Linked DNA regions of Homo sapiens. The protein of the gene in region 2 purifies or fractionates together with the protein of the main gene of each other region. This does not show direct contact. Each region holds a gene or a part of one and is shown on either strand. Other genes may lie near its edges.

Region 1 (7,027 bases), on a different chromosome or scaffold from region 2:
GGATCTAATGACACAAAGATGATTTTAAGCAGTGTCTCTCACTTTGGAAATTTATTGTCTAGTTTGGACTATGAGGGAATTATTTTCATATATACAATTTTTTTTCCAGGAGTAGCCATTCTTCTTTCAGTTAGTCAGGGGTCTTTTGGATTTCCCTCTCTTTCATTGGATGACATAGTTAAACTATATTGTGCTTTCTCTCATGCAGGGCAGCCACTGATCACAATGTGGATAATACAACAGAAATATTCAGGGAGTGGTTGAAAAATGTACAGAGACTCTATCACTATGTGGAGTGGAGGCCTATGGATGAACCAGAGTGAGTAGCAAGTGCGAAATTTGTAAACTCATTATTTACCCTTCCTCTTTAACTAGCTCTTTAGGGCTTCCAGGTTTGGAGGTACATGTGACTTTTCATTGTCTTTCATTTCTGTAGCTATGTGAGTTCTGAATATCTGCCATTTCTCCCTTTTAGAGATCTTCACAGTACTCTCTTGCTGTTTACTCCCACAGCTGCCAGCCAAGTTCAGATTTTCATTACTTCATAAATAAATTGCCATGACAGTTTATATTTTTAAATATTGATATTATTTATTCATATTTTAAACAAACTTTTATATTTGGAGGATCATATTGAAAATGTGTATACTTTCTACATAGAGCTTGCTTTTTTCAACTTTTATCTTGATAATCATTCTATAGCAATAGTTAAGGAGCTAATTTTCATTTTTTTTACTGCATAATCACTGTTGTATGTGCATTTACCATAATTATTTAATTGATCCCCTACTGATGCTCATTTAGGTAATTTCCTATCTTAACCATAGAAATTCCTTCTTTCTTTCTTTTCCTTCTTTTCTTTCTTTTCTTTTCTTCGCTTCTCTTCTCTTCTTTCTCTCTCTCTCTCTCTCTCTCTTTCTCTCTTTCCTTCTTTCTTTCAAGACAGGGTCTCACTCTGTCACCCCAGCTGGAGTACAGTGGCATGACCATAGCTCCACTGTAACCTCGTACTCCTGGGTTCAGGCAATACTCCTCACTCAACCTCCTGAGTAGCTAAGACCACAGCCATGCACCACTATGCCTGGCTAATTTTATTTTTATTTTTTGTAGAGACATGATCTCACCATGTTGTCCAGGCTGGTCTTGAACTCCTGGCCTCAAGCGATCCTCCCACCTTGGCCTTCCAAAGTGCTGGGATTACAGGTGTGAGCCTTTGTGCCTGGTTACCATAACAATTTCTTTCTTTTTTTTTTTTTTTGAGACAGAGTCTTGCTATGTCACCCAGGCTGGAGTGCAGTGGTGCAATCTTGGCTCACTGCAACCTCCGCCTCCTGGGTTCAAGCAATTCTCCTGCCTCAGCCTCCCGAGTAGCTGGGACTACAGGTGTGTGCCACCACACCCAGCTATTTTTTTGTATTTTGAGTAGAGAGGGGATTTCACTATGTTAGCCAGGATGGTCTCGATCTCCTGACCCTGTGATCTGCCCGCCTTGACCTCCCAAAGTGCTGAGATTACAGGTGTGAGCCACCGTGCCCGGCCACCATAGCAATTTATTAATTGCTTCTATCTCCAAGTCATCCTACATACCATACAGTCAAATCAATCTACCTCAAATACAAATGAAATGGTTTCATTTCTTTATTAAAAATACTTCACTTACTCTTTAGGACCTGAACAAAGTTCAAACACCTAAGACTTATATTTTTAAAATTCCATGAATTTAGCACCAAAAGAAAATGTGCTTTATCCAGAACGTTTCTTTTATTTCCAAACCCCACACTGTTGCTTGTGCAGGTCCTGGAAGACCCTTTCCTTCTTTATAACTAATTCTTATCCTAAATCATGCCTACTATAGAAACCTATTCTTAATCACTCAGTTATAAATATCTACCTTTGTCTCAACAATTGTATTGCTTATATTCTATGTCATCCTTTTTGGCACAATGATATACGCAACCAACATTTTCCCCCTATGCAATTAATGTATTTTTTTTCTAAATAAGTTGTAAGTTCTTTGGCAGGGGCTAGAATATATAAACACTTTATATTCCCCCTCTCCCCTCAGAGCCATGTTCTTGGCAGGCACTAAATTAATACTGGTTGGATGAACAAATAAGAACAAGAATAAATGTATTTAAAACTTACTATTATAAATGTTCCCAAAGCTACTACAGTTTTACTTTAAGGAACTGTAGAAATAGAATGAAGGAGTTGCCTGAATTTCTTCCCCAGAGAAGTCATTTATTGAAAGCCAAATTTGTATTATAGTAATAATAAATGCCATTCCAGAACAAGTTTCTGTTCTTCTAGTCTTTCTATATGTAAGAATTATTATAAATATTTATATTATAAAGAAATATATATAAATATGATATAATATATACATATGTGTTTCTCAAATCCAAGCCCATGGACTGTATATCAAGCAAAATTTAACAGTGAAGTCTGAACACCGTAAAAGATTGTAAACACTCCTTTAGAGTGCCTTATAATGGAGTTTGGCCTAACAAAAATGGCACAGAAATACTTTGTGTCCCTTCTTTGCACCTTGGTAATGTTCTCTGCAGCCAGGTTTTGACTAAATATATTATATGCCAAGGTCAGTGTGAAAAAATATTAGAACAGGCATTTTTGGGGGGAATATATTTAGAAAAATGAGAATTCCACTGATTTTCATTGAAACAATAACTGGGGAAGATATTCCAGAGAATTCCTGTGCTGTACATAGTTTTATTAACCTTATTTGTTTAGTTACAGTCTCATTGTTTTTGCAGTTTTTCACTCACTAAAACAAATGTACTGCCAGTGCAGCTATGAGATCTTGAAGTGGTGGCCAGTTTTGGGTTACTGCAACAGTATCAATGTCCGTGCCAGCTGGGTGCCTTCAGAAGGGTTTTGGAGCGTGCTCCAACCCACTTGCCTATGTGGCCATGAAGGAGTCTTGGCCTGGCTGTTTTGTGAATCTTGATAGAGATCCCACGACCTCACTTTACCTAAGATAGATCAATGTGTTAGGCTGTGTGGAATCATTTGTGGAGACTCCAACAAGTAGATTAAACCTTTGATTTTCCTGGGAAACTCATGTTTTACACTGCATACTCTCCAAATCTATTCGATGTCGGGATGTATAAAAATTGTCTAGGAACATGAGCTTTTTGCTTGGATTCAAATCTTGATTGTGCCCCATTGTGTAACATTGGACGAATGACTTAACTGCTCTACCCTGATATCCTCACCTGTGAAATGCAGAGAATAGCAGTACTCACCTCAAAGGGCTCTCATTAGAACCCACTGAAATATTTCATGTAAAGATTCTTGTATACAATGAGCAGTGAGTTACTTGACTTCTCATTGCTCCGGTTTCCTCATCTGTAATATGGGGATGATGATAACAATAATAATAGTATCTACTTCCTGGGATTGATAGAAGATTAAATGAATACATATAAACATTTAGGACAGAGCCTGGTACATGTAGGCACTCAATAATGATGAGCTATTATTATTATTTTAGGTCTTACCCTGATGAAATTGGACCAAAGCACTGGCCAACCTCCCGGTTTGCCCATGTGATGAAACTACGACAGGCAGCCCTTCGAACTGCGAGGGAAAAATGGTCAGACTACATTCTGGTAAAAACAGATGTTTGATTTCTTGACAACTGTCATCTCAGGTGTATCCAAATCAGTCGTCCAAAAACTAGAACCATGGAAGCAATCAAAACAACCTTTTTGATTAGGCAGTGCCTCCCCCACTTTTTAAGAAAGGCACAATGAAATTTTTGGTAGTTTAAAATTGGGCTACCTGGACTTCATCTTCAGGCCCACATGCATTTTCAGTGGGTAAGTGAAGAAGTGCCTGAATTATTTGGTCTCTGCCATGCAACAGGCATAAGAACTCTGCATATTTTTAGCTCACAGGAAAGGCTGTAGGTAAAGCAATGTAAGTTGTTCTTACAACTTTTTGGAAGAATTTGGGGGATATGAAAAAGTAATTATCTAAAAAAGTGATTCAGCTGAACAGCTCTGAAATGGTTCCCTTTTGCTCCTGAATGATCTGGGGAGTAGCATCTGTTGCTTGGCACAGTGATGCTCTCTTTGGAGAATTTATGTCCATCCCCATCCCCTCAACCACAGTGAAAATCTGCCCAAAAATGTATCACGCACACTTGTGACACAAATCCTTTCATAGAAGTTTTCAAATTGTACTGACAATATTTAACATTGTGTAGCTGTTTAAATGCCATTGAAGTGTACAAATGTTAAATCACAAAATTTGGGGTAAACAGATGGACTATCATAAAAATGAAGACTTCTGAATTTTTTATTGTGATAAAACCTACAAAAGGTAAAATCTGTCAGTTTATCCCTTTTTCAGTGTATAGTTCAGTATGATTATTTCTTTTATAAATTAGAATCTGTTGTTATACTGTCTCTAAATAAATCACTGTTAACATGGACTTCTAAGAATAGGAAATAGCTTCACTGGTTAGCATGGGTTGATATAATGTACTTAAACAAAAATTCTACTTGTCACATTAAAATTCATTGATAGATCTGTTTTGAGCTACTCTGGCATTACTATAGAAAAGCTAAGTAGGCATGCCCATCTGTACCTAGACTGGGCAGCCAATAAGTGTTTTTGAATGAACCTTTAATGGCTTGGGAGCCATTAATATCTTGTGCCTAAAACACTAGCCAAAGTGTAGGTTGGTTCCTGGTTGAGGCTATGCCCAGTATGGCAGCACCAATTTACTGCTTAGTGCCTTATGCAGAGCCCAACATACGAAAGTTAGACTAAATATATTTTGACTGAATGAAAGCCACCTAGCTGCAATGGGTTTCAATAAGGAGGACATAGATAGCTGGTTCCATATGTCATGAGCAAGTTTCTGGGATCCTTCAGAAGGGCTGGGTTATTCTCAAACTCATTACTGAAAAGTACCTTTTCACCTAACATTATCCTTTTCTTTTCCTAGTTCATAGATGTTGACAATTTCCTGACTAATCCACAGACCCTCAATCTACTGATTGCAGAAAACAAAACTATTGTGGCCCCCATGCTGGAGTCTCGGGGCCTGTATTCTAATTTCTGGTGCGGAATCACCCCTAAGGCAAGTCTTTTGCTTAAATGAATTAAGGCTACTAGTTTTAACAAGGCAACACCCGGTCAACAGTAGTCCCATTCACCTTTCTCTTGTTTACTCCCTTGAAACATGCGTGTCATTGTGTTCCCAGAGCAAGCATTTTTTAGGAAGGGCAGTAAATCTGGGTCCAATGCTACACCCAGTTGGGCTCTTCTGTGTTAATTTATTATGAAAAAAATAGTCTAAAGAGCTTAGCCTTAGAAACGTCAAATTAGCCAATTCCTGATTCAGGAATTACTATTTTTAATTAATTCTTTTTGTCCTTACAAAACTAACATAAGAACACTATAGAAAAACTTAGAAATTAAAAAAAGTTTAAAAGAAAACCAACAAGACAGATGTTAAATCCCCATCACCGTAACAACATCATAGATAGAAACTTGCACGTTTTTAGTAACTGTGTTATCATCAAGTGGCTATGTTCCAATTTACTTAACCTTTATCTCGGTTTGAAAAACATTTAAATTATTCACAACTTTTTAACTATCGTGACCGTCATGATTAATATAATTTTTCAGCATTTAAGATTATATCCTTAGGATAGCTTTTTAGAAGTGGAATTACTGAGTCAAACAGTACAAATATGCCAGGCGCGGTGGCTCACACCTGTGATCCCAGCACTTTGGGAGGCCAAGGCGGGCGGATTACAAGGTCAGGAGATTGAGACCATCCTGGCTAACATGGTGAAACCTCATCTCTACTAAAAATATAAAAAATTAGCCAGGCGTGGTGTTGGGCGCCTATAGTCCCAGCTACTCGGAAGGCTGAGGCAGGAGAATGGCGTGAACTTGGGAGGCGGAGCTTGCAGTGAGCCGAGGTCGCGCCACTGCGCTCCAGCCTGGGTGACAGAGCGAGACTCCCTCTCAAAAAAGAAAAAAAAAAAAAAAGTACAAATATTTCAATGACCTTCGATGTATGTTGCCAAATTTATTTCCAAAGAGTTCTAATAATGAAAACTACCATGGTAGGTTATTTTTATAAAATTCAAGTTAAAAAAGGTTTGATTTTTTATTATTTCTTTTTTTCATAGTAAAATCTTCAAAATAGTGGTCTGTTTTAGTGAATGCTCATGGCTGGTTATATTTTTTATTCTTTAATTAAAGAATTAGATAAATTCAACTGATTAATGTAATATGTATCAATGTAGGATAAAAATGTGCTAAGCAAAATATGTTGGCCAGGAGCAGTGTCTCATGCCTGTAATTTCAACACTTTGGGAAGCTGAGGTAGGACAATTACTTGAACCCAGGAGTTTGAGACCAACATGAGCAACATGGCGAAACCACATCTCTACAACAAATCAAAAAATTAACCAGTTGTGGTGTCGTGCACACCTATAGTTCCATCTATTCGGGAGGCTGAGCAGGGAGTATTGCTTGAGCCCAAGAAGTTGAGGCTGCAGTGAGCTATGATCACACCACTGCACTGCAGCCTAAGCAACTGAGACCCTGTCTCAAAAAAAGAGGGAGTATGTTCAATGTATTCTCATGGCCAAAGGGCTAAAGTTTGAGTCTCCCCTTTATATTTGGTTTTGTTTTGGATGAGAAATAAGGTCAGTAGTGTGCTGATAAATGTTTAATAACTGGCTCTTTGTGGGAAAAACCCTAGTTGGTAGCATTGCCAATTTTTATGGTTTAAATACTCCCACCATGCAAACAGCTTAAATGTTGTTAAGCTAAGGGAAAGGTTAAGTAAACTGCAGTATAGCCACTTGATGATACAGCTATTAAAAACATGTAAAACTGCCACATGAGGTGTCATTAGAGTGGTGGGGATTAACGTGATTTTTGTTTTTATGGATTCCAAGCTATCAACATGTCAACTGGTTTGCAAACTTTCTGAAAATTTAACAATGTGTGGTCCAGTACACCACTGGATGAA
Region 2 (7,444 bases):
TGAAATGTAAAAAAGAAATTATTATGTGTTTGCATGTTACTTTCTAAATGCATTATTTTAAAAGTCATTCTACTAATTTTCATTTTTTACAAACTGTATAAAGTTAAATTAACTCACAAGAGAGGACTTTAATCCACTAATTACTTATTTGAATGGACAAAGCTGAAACCAAGTCCAAAGTTGAGTTATATCAATTTGTCAAGAAATCCCTTCTGGAGATGAGGTTGTCATTGTACTGTTATGCTGTTTTAACTAGTAAAATACTTCTGCCTTAGGATATGCTTTTTTCGTATCCTGGAATTTATTTTCCTTCCAGGAAAATATCAGGAAGCTGGAGGCATGATCATTAAAATGCACAAGAACAGATGTTGCTGGGTCTCTGTCAGGCACTGAGCAAATGTTTTGATGTGTCATTTCTTCCAGTTACTGTGGATGAAGAGCACAAGAATGGTGTGTTAGTTTCTTAGGGCTGCCATAACAAGTTACCCCAAACTTGGTGCCTTAATACAACGGACCTTTATTATCTCATACTTCTCAAGGCCACAAGTACAAAATCAAGCTGTAGGTAGTAGAGAACTCTGCTCTGCAGGCTGTAGGGGAGAAGCACTCCTTGCCTTTGACAGTTTATGGTGGCTGCAAGCCCATTCTTTAGTTTCTTGTTGCGTAACTCTCATTTCTGCCTCAGTCTTCACCTGGCCTTCTCCTTTCATCTCTGTCTCCCTCCTTTGGGTGTCTCTTCTAAGGACACTTGTCACTGGATTTAGGGTCCACCCAGATAATCTAGGATGATCTCATCTTGAGACTCTTAGCTTAATTATGTTTGCAAAGACCCTTTTGTCACGTAAGGTCATGTTCACAAGTTCCTGGGTTAGATGTGGATATATATATATATTTTTTAAGGCCACAATTCAATTCACAAAAAAAAAAAAGAAAAGAGTAGAGGAATAACGAGGCAAATATCACTTGTTATTTACTTTAATGACATGTCATATTTGGACAAACACAAAGCTAAGCCTGGAATTCCAATATCTTGGGAAATGAAAGATAAAAGCAGTCAGAAAAAAGTAGAACTATGAAGACAGTTTTATAAACTAGCTACTAATTCTTTTCTTTTTAGATTTACCATTAATCTCTTCCACTATTATGCCATCTGTAAACTTGATTGGCTTGTTGTCTATTTTAAAACCACGTTTTAAGGCAAAAACAGTGTTGGCTTGTTGTTCTCAGTGACTTCATTTTCTGAATAAACAAGACTGAACCCTTTTAAATGTCAGTAGAAACCTTTCTGGGAAGCACTATTTTTTTGCACACTAAAGACAATATACTTAACATAATTTAACCACTTTATGTATTCAATCATCTTTCCCATTTTAAAATTAAATAATGTTTTATATAAAATATGTGAATTCTCTGTAGCAATTTAAATTTTGATGTAGTATAGTACACATTATATAGGAATGTATTTATATGCTTTATTGAGTAAAAAAAGGAGGGGGGCAGAATATGCCAAGAAAATTTTTTAAGGACTATTGTTTGTTTGAAATGGTTACCAGTTAATTTCTATATATAAATGCAATGATTCTATTCTTATTGTATGCCAGGAAATGTTTGAAAATAAACAAATAGTGAAGTAGACTTAGGGTAGTCTAAACAATTTAAAGAGTATCAATTTTCTTAGAATCATAGAATTTAGAAACAATGTTAAATATGAAGTCCAAACTCATTTTACATGCCTAGTGGCAATTGACATTATGTGATTTGCTCTATGTCACATATCTGGCTATGACACATGTAAAATGTTAGGTTTCTAACATCATTCAATTCTCAGTATTTTTCTATCACTGTTAACCTGACAAATGCATCCACTTTGGACATTTTAAGTGTTTGTGAAAAATTAATGCATCCTCAATGCTTGAGAATGTTCATCTTTATGGAAACCAAATAGTATTTTAAAAGCAGGATTTTGGGAAATAATTTGTATTTGATTTTTTTTTTTTGGTCACTTTTTCAATGGATGACCTTACTCAAACTGCTTAATTTCTTTGAGCCTCAGCTACTTTGTTTGCAAAATGAAAGGACTACTATCTAATCCACAGGACTATTTTGAGACTAAATGAGATAAACGCAAGTTGAGACTAGCTCTCAGCCTGTATATAATGACTATTCAATCAGTGCTAGTTTCCTTCCCTGTACTGCTTATGAAAAAATCAGTCAGTTATACTATAGGCCTGTTGTGATGTATTCAATTGTGTTCCTCCCACCTCAAAATTCATGTGTTGAAGTTCTGATCCCCAATACCTCAAAGCAAATTTCTGCTGTTTAAGCCAGGGGTCCCCAGTCCCCAGGCCACGAACTGGTATCGGTTTGTGGCCTGTTAGGAGCACGGCTGTACAGCAGGAGGTGTGCGGTGGGTGAGCCTGCGAAGTTTCATCTCTATTTACAGCTGCCCCCACATCAGTCACATTACTGCCTTAGTTCCCACCTCCTGTCAGATCAGCAGCGGCATTAGATTCTCATAGGAGCACAAACCCTATTGTGAATTGTGCATGTGGGGATTTAGGTTGCCTGATATTTAGGAGAATCTAATGCCTGATGATCTGCCACTGTCTCCCATCATCCCCAGATGGGAGCATCTAGTTGTAGTAAAACAAGCTCAGGTCTCCCACTGATTCTACATTATAGTGAGTTGTATAATTATTTCATTATATAATACAATGTAAATAATAAAAATAAAGTGTACAATAAATGTAATGTGCTTGAGGCCAGGCATGGTGGCTCACACCTGCGATCCCAGCACTTATGGAGGCCAAGGTGGATGGATCATTTGAGATCAAGAGTTGGAGACCAGCCTGGCCAACCTGGTGAAACCCCAACCATACTAAAAATACAAAAAATTAGCCAGGTGCAGTGGTGTACACCTGTAATCTCAGCTACTCAGGAGGCTGAGGCACGAGAATCGCTTGAACCTGGGAGGCAGAGGTTGCAGTGAGCCCAGATCATGCGACTGTACTCCAGCCTGGGCAACAGCGAGACTCCATCTCAAAAAAAAAAAAGAAAAAAGAAAAGAAAAAGAAAAAGTAATGTGCCTGCCTGAATCATCCTGAAAGTATTTCCCCATCTTCCCCATAGAAAAATTGTCTTCCACCAAACTGGTCCCTGGTGCCAAAAGGGTTGGCACTGGTTTTAGCCACCCGGCCGCTGGTGTAAGCCACTCAGTTTGTGGTGCTTTGTTATGGCAGCCCTAGGAAACTAATGCACCTGTATTTCTTGGATTGATGGTTACTTGTAACGACATCTCTTAGGGATATTTTTTCAGCAGTCAGTCTGTATCAGGATCTGTAAGGTCCTTCTTTTCCAATTTCAAGGAAAGCAGGTCCAAAATCCCTTTCACCTAACTCTTAGTTGAGATGCTGTTCAAGAATGGAGAAGGTAAGGGGCCTCTCCAATATATGTGATTCTGGTTCCAATCTTCCAATATCTTACTATGCCCATACTATTTGTACAGGTTATAGGTTTGTGGAATAGATAGAGATCCTGATCTCTGTATCTATATCTGTATCTGATCTACATACTCTACATCTAAATCTGTTGAGCTTTTTATGAAACATAATACCACAAGCTTTTCCCCCTTATTTTGTAAAAGACTTGCTGAAAACACCATTTTAATAAAATTGTCATGTCATACACTCTCATATATTTTACCGTAATTTGCCCACTGTTAACACGTTGTTAGGCAATTGAAGGCCTTTCGCCTTTCTGCCACATCCCTTCAAATGAAGCTTTGCCCACATTTCAGAATATTTCCTTGAGATAGTGTACCAGAAAGGCTAAAAGCTATAAACTAGGCCAAAGGTAATAAACATTTTAATATTCCTAATACTTATCACCAAGTTGCTTCACAGAAAAGCTGGTTGTTCTTTCCTTTTGAATTTAATCACAAGAGAATAATCTTGGTAGCAAGAGTAAGAAGGTCATGGAGGGCATTGGAAGCATTAGTGTTCAACAGGCACAAGCAGGTAATAAATATCACCTTATGAAAAGCTCAAAGCCATGCACGGTGTTTGCATAACATGTTGCTAACTGAAGACCTCTCTGGTTCACAACCTTTCTGAAACTCAGCGTTTAAATGCAATATAGCCTATTAAATTGTCAGCTCAAGTACTCAGCAGAAGGCATCTCTATCTTCTTTGTTCTTGGGGATGTTTCTACTGACATGCACACTGGAGTTCAGAGATAATTTTCAATAAACTGTTGTCACTTGAAAATAAACAGTCTGGACAATGTATGGTCCATTTGGAGCACTGAGAAAATAAACAACCTAGGGTATGCTTCCTTCCTGTCTCTGTAGCCCTTTTTGGAATGTGTGTTCCAAATACTTCCCCTTCTTCCCCAAAGCAGGAGGTTTTATTTAAAATAAAGCTGTTTATTTGGCATTTCTGGGAGACCCTTTTCTGAGGAACCACAGCAATGAATGGCTTTGCATCCTTGCTTCGAAGAAACCAATTTATCCTCCTGGTACTATTTCTTTTGCAAATTCAGAGTCTGGGTCTGGATATTGATAGCCGTCCTACCGCTGAAGTCTGTGCCACACACACAATTTCACCAGGACCCAAAGGTGAGGAAAGAAAACCACAATTTTCATGTATAATAAATATGATATCTTCCCTCATCTCTGAACCCCTTCCTAGATTTCAATGACTTTCTCTTCTCTCCTCCCTAGTTTCCTCCCATTTTCCTTCTATTTTGGAAAATCAGGATTTTCCAGATCTGGTCTGTTACTTATTTAAAGCTCTCCTTTGATGTTAGGTAAGAGGATGTTGGGAAGGGGAAACCCAGGACGGAGATCTGAGGGAACTTACCCAGGGCAGGGGGAAATTCCCTGTTCCATTCTGCTCCGGGGCAGATGCACAATCCAGGCATGAGTCTCCAGAAGCCCTTTCCTTCCTTAAAAGCACCTCTATTATTGCACTGTTTGTACTCTCCTCCTTTCTAATACTGATGCTGGTAAAGCTGTTTAAGCAAAAGGTCAGTAACATAAAACTTAAATCTTAAATATATATTTCATAAGTTAATGGGATCCTGAGTTCCAACGTAGAGGATGGAAACATTTTGTCAAGCATTGAAGGTAGTATATAAATGAACATTTCTTTATTTGGAAGTGTAGTCTCTGGGGCCAAATGCCTTCTGCTCAAGGATGGTAGAATATTGCAAAATGTTCTCAAGTACAGCCAAGGTCCAAATATGCTTTAAGCAACCAGTAGATTTTAAAAAATCTATTTTTCTGGTTTTAGCTTTCACCCTTTTGTTCTGAAAGTGGTCACTGCACTGCAGATTGGTGCTCCCTTATTAGTAATTCATGCTGTTTCTCCAGGCTATAGGGTAGAAGAATTGCAGCTGCCTAAAATTTTAAGTAGAAAAAAGTGTTTTTCCAAAAAACAAAATTCAGAAATACATTGCCCCATGCCTGTCAGTTATTTAAATGTGTATTGCTTAAAGTGCATTTTTCTTAATCACTGAATTAATTTTCCTCTAAGATTGCAATCCAAGTTTTAACCTTTGATACGATAAAATAAATGCTGTGAGGAACAATGAGAGCTTAGAGCTTCCAAATAATTTCTTGGGTGAATAAATGAATAATGCGAGGGCAAATGTTCAGAAAGAAAGTTTTGATTAGAAATAAAGTATTTGCTTAAAACCGTTACTGAAGTTTCCTTAGAGTATAGGAAACTTTAGATTATTCCTGGGGTGTCATGGGGGCATTGAAAATTAAAGTTTTCCTTGTCCCTGCAAATGGGAGAATCCATTTGAGAATAGCACTATTTTTTACCTAATAGAAAACTTCTCCCTTCCCATTTTCCCATTAGAAACCCTGTTAAAACTTCAAACAGTGGAAATCTCATTAACTTTCCTCCTGAGCATCTGCAGACATTATGAGATAATTACAAGCCAGAGTGTGACAAAATGAAGTGAGTGATCCTGGGGAGAGGGACTTGGGAAGCGGTGTTCTAGAACCGTGGGTTCTAGAACTAAGTCTGTTATGTTCTTGGGTGTGATTTCCTCTTCTTCATCCAGAGCCTGGAAACTGTATCACATGGACTCCAAATTTTATTTTTAATAAAATTTTATTCTTAATAAAATTCTTAATAAAATAAATTCTTAATAAAATTTAATAAATTTTGTTCTTAATAAAGAAATCCATGATCCTGGAATGTACTGAATACCTACTAAGATCCAGGCATCATGTTAGATGCTAGGGGTTGGAAGCTAAGATAAGTAACCTGTCCTAGCTCTCGCATCTACATACCAAGCTTTGTATTCTATTACAAACTCTTGAGGCCGGCACCAATTTATGCTTTTTCTTTGAAAATTTCCTACACACCTAAATGCACCTAAAGCAACATGAGTATATTCATCACTGCCTTTCCTGTGCTCTAGGCACCATGCTAGATGATATGGGTACACCAGAAACCAAGACATGATACCTTCTCTTAAGATATGAACAGTGGGCCAGGTGTGTTGCCTGCAATCCTAACACTTTGGGAGGCCAAGGCAGGTGGATCACTTGAGTCCAAGAGTTTGAGACCAGCCTGGGTGACATAAAGAGACCCCATCTCTACAAAAAATTAAAATAATTTTTTAAAAATTAGCCAGGTGTGGTGGTGCACACCTGTAGTCCCAGTTACTTGGACGTCTGAGGCAGGAGAATTGCTTAAGTCCAGACAGTTGAGCCTGCATGGGCCATGATCATGCCACTTCACTCCAGCCTGGACAACAGAGTGAGACCCCATCTCAAAAAAAAAAAAAAAAAAAAAAAAATATATATATATATATATATATATATATATATGTAAACTGCCATCTACTCTACCTTGTTCCTTCATGAATACTGTGACAACCCCTCCCCACTCCAAAATAAGGCAGATATGTATATTTACCTCTACAAAATTAAAAAGAATAGTATGATGGTTAAGTAAGTGTTTTAAAGGTCTGCGTTATTACTGTTTTTTCAATATTTTTCCCCTAAGATCAAGCTAGTCTTAATACTTTTCTTCATGGCTAATCATCTCATTACTGTATTTACTAGCACTGCAGCACAGTGCTCAGAAGTTTCTAGATACTCTGGGAAACAGTGAAATGAATTTTCCCTAAATTCATCTGGGAGAGTGAAAACTAAATGAATTATTTAGAATTGCAGAATGGCATTTGTGAAAACCCAGTAATGCTAACCAGTCATAGAATATATTGACCAATATACAGATATTATTTTTAAAGTCTTATTTCCCAGACATGGTTTAGTGGAAAGAAAGGCACTGGAGTCAATCTGATTATCTTCAGCATGTTGTTACATCTGTTACACTTCAGTGTCTTCATTTGCAAAATGAGCCTTCATCACAGACCTCTTTTAAGAATTATGATAACCAATGTGAACTTTAAGCTGTACAGA

Evidence for each region. The genes of interacting proteins can lie anywhere in the genome.
Region 1: the proteins of COLEC10 (region 2) and COLGALT2 purify together in Homo sapiens (affinity purification with mass spectrometry; 3 studies listed by BioGRID and IntAct, with this or other methods). This does not show direct contact.

The regions. Positions count from the first base shown.
Region 1 is NC_000001.11:183,971,702-183,978,728, reverse strand, and holds part of COLGALT2 (procollagen galactosyltransferase 2), read left to right. Parts: intron 1-208; coding exon 209-319; intron 320-3,514; coding exon 3,515-3,632; intron 3,633-4,978; coding exon 4,979-5,113; intron 5,114-7,027. UniProt on the Homo sapiens protein: Beta-galactosyltransferase that transfers beta-galactose to hydroxylysine residues of collagen.
Region 2 is NC_000008.11:119,062,815-119,070,258, forward strand, and holds the start of COLEC10 (collectin-10 isoform 1 precursor), read left to right. Parts: upstream 1-4,432; 5' UTR 4,433-4,467; coding exon 4,468-4,615; intron 4,616-4,859; exon of another isoform or gene 4,860-5,968; intron 5,969-7,444. UniProt on the Homo sapiens protein: Lectin that binds to various sugars: galactose > mannose = fucose > N-acetylglucosamine > N-acetylgalactosamine. Acts as a chemoattractant, probably involved in the regulation of cell migration.